Homo sapiens: one gene and its partner. The protein of the gene in region 2 purifies or fractionates together with the protein of the main gene of each other region. This does not show direct contact. Each region holds a gene or a part of one and is shown on either strand. Other genes may lie near its edges.

Region 1 (3,658 bases), on a different chromosome or scaffold from region 2:
AGGCTTTGGAGATAAGGTGGTTGCTGGTAGGGAGCCCAGAAGGCAGTTAGAGCATTCTTTCTGCCCTTGAAGGGAAACAAACCCTTCCCGTTGTTTCTGGAGTCCCTGGGAAACGCTGTCAGTTTGGCCCTGGGCCACACATGCGAGCCATCTCTGCGTAACCTCTGCCAGTGTCCTCTGTCAGCACCTGTTTTAGCGGCATTCCTCACAGGCAAACAACAGCTGCTCCAAAGGGGGTGGTTGTTTTAAGAAAAATGAGCGCGCACAAATGTCTGTGCAGAAAAGAACATTCCCACCTGTTTAATATGGAAAGTCTCACTGTCTTAAAAGAAAACAGTGGCCGGGCGCAGTGGCTCACACCTGTAATCCCAGCACTTTGGGAGGCTGAGGTGGGCAGATCACGAGGTCAGGAGATCGAGACCATCCTGACCAACATGGTGAAACCCCGTCTCTACTAAAAATACAAAAATTAGCTAGGCATGGTGGCGCGTGCCTGTGTTCCCAGCTACCTGGAAGGCTGAGGCAGGAGAATCACTTGAACCTGGGAGGCGGAGCTTGCAGTGAGCCAAGATTGCGCCACTGCACTCCAGCCTGGCAACAGAGCAAGACTCCGTCTCAAAAAAAAAAAAAAAAATAGCCACGCATGGTGGCGGGTGCCTGTAATCTCAGCTACTTGAGAGGCGGAGGCAGGGAGAATTGCTTGAACTCAGGAGGCAGTGGTTGCAGTGAGCCGAGATAGCGCCATTGTACTCCAGCCTGGGCAACAAGAGTGAAACTCCATCTGAAAAAAAAAAAAAAGAAAAGAAAAGAAAAGAAAACAGTGGCTGGGCATGGTGTCTCACGCCTGTAATCCCAACGCTTTGGGAGGCTGAAGTGGGAGGATCACTTGAGCCCAGGAGTTCAAGACCAGCCCGGGCAAATAGGGAGACCACCCCACCCCCCATCTCTACAAAAATAATTAAAAAGATAAAAAATTAGCCGGGCATGGTGGCATTTGCCTGTAGTCCCAGCTACTCAGTGGGCTGAGGTGGGAGGATGGCTTGAGCCCAGGAGGTGAAGGCTACAGTGAGCTGTGATCAGACCACTACACTCCAGCCTGAGTGACAGAGCAAGACCCTGCCTCCAAAAAAAGAAAAGAACACAGGTGAATATGCCATCTATGAAACAGGCCATAGTAAGAAAGGACCCTGGCTACTAAAGGGGAAGATAGTGATTAAAGCCAAGGAAGGGCCAGGCATGATGACTCACACTGTAATCCCAGCACATTGGGAGGCTGAGGCAGAAGGCTCGCTGACCAGCCTGGGCAACATAGTGAGACCCCATCTCTACAGAAAATTTTAAAAATCAGCCAGATGTGGAGGCTGAGGTGGGAGGATTGCTTGAGCCCAGGAGTTGGAGGCTGCAGTGAGCTATGATTGTACCACTGCACTATAGCCTGGGCGACAGAGTGAGACCTTGTCTCAAATACATAAAAAAACATGGCTAGGCACAGTGGCTCATGTCTATAATCCCAGCACTTTGGGAGGCCGAGGCAAGCAAATCACGAGGTCCAGAGTTCGAGACCAGCCTAGCCAACATGGTGAAACCCCATCTCTACTAAAAATACAAAAATTAGCCAGTCATGGTGGTGCGTGCCTGTAATCCCAGCTACTTGGGAGACTGAGGCAGGAAAATCTCTTGAACCTGGGAGTCAGAGGTTGCAGTGAGCCGAGATTGTGCCACTGCACTCCAGCCTGGGTGACAGAGCAAGACTCCATCTCAAAAAACAAACAAACAAACAAACAAACAAACCACACCTAGTAAGCCCTCCTGATTCATTTATGTTAATGCTTGCCTAGAGCTGCCACATGCAGCTGTGCAGGGTGCGCACTGCACAAGGATGCCACATCTGAGGGGGCTCCATTAATAACAGAGACATTGTAAATGTATGTTAATTTCAGCAATTAATGACAGGTGGAAATAAAGCATCTGGCTCTAATAAAACAACATTTTTTTTCTGAAAAATGAAAGCAAATGGCCTGAATTTGCAGAATAAAAGCCACACAGGCTGTGGAGTGGCTGTGGGCCTGGCCTCATAGATATTTAGGTTTGGGCCCCTTTTTTTTTTTTTTTTTTTTTAATTTTTTGTAGAGACAAGCGTCTTGATATGTTGCTCAGGCAGGTCTTGAACTCCTGGCCTCAAGTGATCCTCCCACCTCAGCCTCCCAAAGTGCTGGGATTATAGGCGTGAGCCGCCATGCCCAGCCTGGCCCCTGCCTTTAAGCAGCCTTGACTGTCACCCTTTAAGTGGCACCATTGGGATGAACAGAAGAGTCTTCAGATAAACCCTGCCACTTGCTTCTCCTCCCTCCCTTCTCCACCTGTCCCCACCACCTCACTGCTCCTCGTGGCCCTCAACTCCCTACTGTGCCTTCTGGCCTACAAGGGGTGGCTCACTCCTCACCCCTCTTCCCTCCATCTCTCCCTCTAGAACATAGATACCCTGGAGCGAATAGCCGGGCTGGAACAGGAGGACTTGGTGGAGGCGCACGGCACCTTCTACACATCACACTGCGTCAGCGCCAGCTGCCGGCACGAATACCCGCTAAGCTGGATGAAAGGTGAGGCTGGAGGGCATCCTGAGGGCAGGCCTCCTCTCAGCACCAGGAGCAGTGTCTCCATGCAGTGGGCACCCATTCTGTCCTGCTCAATTCTTTGGGGTTTTTTTGTTTTGTTTGTTTGTTTTTGAGACAGAGTCTCACTCTGTCGCCCACGCGGGGAGTTCAGTGGGTGATCATGGCTCACTGCAGCCCAACTGCCTGATTTCCTGTCTTTGGCTGTTTTTAATATATGATAGTAGGCCAGGAGCAGTGGCTCACACCTGTAATCCTAGCACTTTGGGAGGCCAAGGCGGGCAGATCACCTGAGGTCAGGAGTTCAAGACCAGCCTGGCTAACATGGTGAAACCCCGTTTCTACTAGAAATACAAAAAAAAAAAAATTAGCCTGGTGTGGTGGCATGCGCCTGTAATCCCAGCTACTCAGGAGGCTGAGGCAGGAGAATCGCTTGAACCTGGGAGGCGGAGGCTGCAGTGAGCTGAGTTCGCACCATTGCACTCCAGCTTGGGCAACAAGAGCAAAACTCTGTCTCAAAAAAAAAAAAAAAAAAAAAACAAGAAGTCACTTATTCCACTCATGGAAAGCCATTTCTGACATTCTTTATGCTGATTTAACAAAGCCTCTGGTGTCCCTGTGAGATAAGGACAGCTGCAGCATTTGCAGAAGGGCCTCTGGAGTGTGGCTGTTCTGATAAAATGCCAGCTGAGTGCCCCTGGGCTGAGGATTCCTGAATAGCCCAACTGCAAGCAGCTGGGGGCAGTGTACAATTCACATTACCCCCATTATGTGTCATTGACAGCAGCGTCACAGGCAGCACCCACGGTGTCATGCTGTCCATGCAGAAATATTTTAAAGAAAATTACCGACTACTGACATTGAAACAATGCTTTATAAATGTGTGCTGAATGAATGAATGGACAGTTGAGCAAATGACTTAGAATTCAGTGGGTTGCAAGTGACAGAAATGCTTTCTTTCTTTCTTTTTTTTTTTTTTGAGATGGAGTCTTGCTCTGTCACCCAGGCTGGAGTGCAGTGGTGCAATCTCGGCTCACTGCAACCTC
Region 2 (2,376 bases):
CTTCACCTAATATTTTGTTGTATCCACATTAGCAACACAGTTCCAGGACCAGCTATCTATTGTTGTTATGTGGGATTAATTTGGCTTATTAACAAACTTATTCTTCCTCCTTCCATCTTGGTCTCTCCCTTTGTTATCCTATTATTTTCTGTCTTCAGCCAAATCCCTAACTGGGTCTTTAAAAGAATTTCTCATTTTTCCAACTAAATAAAATATGTGGGCTTCTAACTCTTCATGTTCCATCAACATGTGAAAATATCAAAATCCAACAATTAGCAGTATTAGACAAGTAATAAAAATTAGATATATCGCTTTAAACCTGAAGAACAAAAATTATTGACTTTATATATGTATGTATATATGTAAGTCTGTTTGTATTTGACCCCAAACTATACTTTAAGATTCAAATCAAAGTTTTAAGTCTCCCAAACACAGACACTTTTAAAAAGGCTTTTGCATTTCTTGTACATTATCAATTCGAAACAGGTTAACGACTGAAATCCAGCTTTTCTCATTTTTCAGGACACTTGTCAAAACATGTTAAACACACACACAAAACAAAATAGATTTTAAAAATTTAATGTATTATTACATTCATTTCCAGTAGAATACATTCACGGCACTATCACATCTACTATTCTTTTGAACTGGCCATTCCTTCTATTTACATAGCTTTTCACCTCTCAGAGGTTGGCAATTTAAGAGTTGTTATTAAAATAATAATTTACCTAGATGCTGATTTTTTCCCAAGTAAGGATTAAATATCCAAAACAAAATGTATAACTACACTTGTTGATACTTTATATTCTACTTTCCTATTTTAACATTATGAAAACCTGGAATTTTACAATGTAATCTTAGAATCTGCAAGTATTAAAAGTACATTTAGAGTAAAACTGAATTTCAAGATGCTCTATTTCATAATAATCAAGGTACATTATTTTCCATATACTTATGTAGCTCGAATTTTATTATGTATCTAAATGTCCTCTGTCAGTTTTAATTTGGTTTAAATTCTTGATACCAATAAGCCTTCATCAATTCCTAAGAAAATCACTGCTCATTAGTAAAATAAAGTTTTATCTGACAGTTATCTTTTATTTAAGTTAAATAAATGTTAAGTATCTAAAATTTTAATTAACAATATTTGGTAAATTAAATTTATTCTTATCATTCCTTCTTTTAATTTTGTCTATATATATTTTTAGTAATAGCTTCTAGTTCCTTTTACAGGGAGAATCGTCCTCTGCATTATATAGTACAGACTGTTGTAATTAGTTATGTAACTTTCACTAATTAGGTAAATTCACCTTTCACAATTTCTTTTTCCTTATCTATAAAATAAGGAAAGCTAATTTCATATATTATCCTTAAGGTCTCTTGTAGCTCTAGCATACATTAGTAAAGATGCAAATTATACAAATTTTGATATTCATAAACTATAATAGCTATTAAATCAATTTCAAAATAGCCTTTCAAAATGTGACTTTCTATGTTGCAAAATTGTGAACTACTATGTTTTGCTTTCTCTAGAATCTTACTGATTCAGCTCTAAAATATACTTACTTTGTCAAGGCTTCTTAGAATGTGTTGAAATAAGGTCAAAGCCAAGATATATTTGAGCATAATAAATAGTATTGGTAATGATTATACAATTTTTTGTTAACACAGATACATCACTCATCACAAAATGAAATAAAGCCAATGTTTTAAATTAAATATGTAAATCTGCCTGGGACTTATTTAATATCCGACCTTTGAGGAGAATTCCTTTCAAGTTTAATTTCAGTGCAAAAGCAGAGAATCTTGGTTTGTCTTAATAACAGCTTTAGGTATAAGTAACATATAAGTAGATATGTTAATTAATTTTAGGTCTAAAAGAGAGGTCCCAGATATAATAGTATGCTTTTCTCCTTCCATGAGGGTGTGGTATTGAGATCACTATTAAATTATTAAATTAGAAAATTCTTAACACTGGTCAAATTAGACGAGTGGCGACACTATAACACCTCCACTGCTAGAACAATGGAACCCCCAGGAAAGAGCAAGTGGGACTACAATGGGGAGATGAACAAAAACCATATATTGACAACTTAAAGGTAACAAAAGGACTAAAAAATCAATGCCAGCTAACTCAAGCTAATACAAGCTAAAAATTCATTAAAATTACTTTGATTCATTTCTCAAATCAGGAACTTTCTTCATCATCAGTTTAATGCTTACAAGAGGCACTGAAATTTATGCACATTTCTAGAACATCTTTCCAACATGATGTCTCTTATTAGAAAAATGGTTTTGTGAGATAAAACTGTGAAGGAAGAAAAGAAACCAAGAGAGAAAAAGTTCAGAGAAGACTGACCCAAATTTAACATAATC

The links. The genes of interacting proteins can lie anywhere in the genome.
Region 1: the proteins of NUDT12 (region 2) and SIRT2 purify together in Homo sapiens (affinity purification with mass spectrometry; 3 studies listed by BioGRID and IntAct, with this or other methods). This does not show direct contact.

The regions. Positions count from the first base shown.
Region 1 is NC_000019.10:38,882,569-38,886,226, reverse strand, and holds part of SIRT2 (NAD-dependent protein deacetylase sirtuin-2), read left to right. Parts: intron 1-2,470; coding exon 2,471-2,600; intron 2,601-3,658. UniProt on the Homo sapiens protein: NAD-dependent protein deacetylase, which deacetylates internal lysines on histone and alpha-tubulin as well as many other proteins such as key transcription factors.
Region 2 is NC_000005.10:103,548,292-103,550,667, forward strand, and holds the end of NUDT12 (NAD-capped RNA hydrolase NUDT12), read right to left. Parts: 3' UTR 564-2,376; downstream 1-563. UniProt on the Homo sapiens protein: mRNA decapping enzyme that specifically removes the nicotinamide adenine dinucleotide (NAD) cap from a subset of mRNAs by hydrolyzing the diphosphate linkage to produce nicotinamide mononucleotide (NMN) and 5' monophosphate mRNA.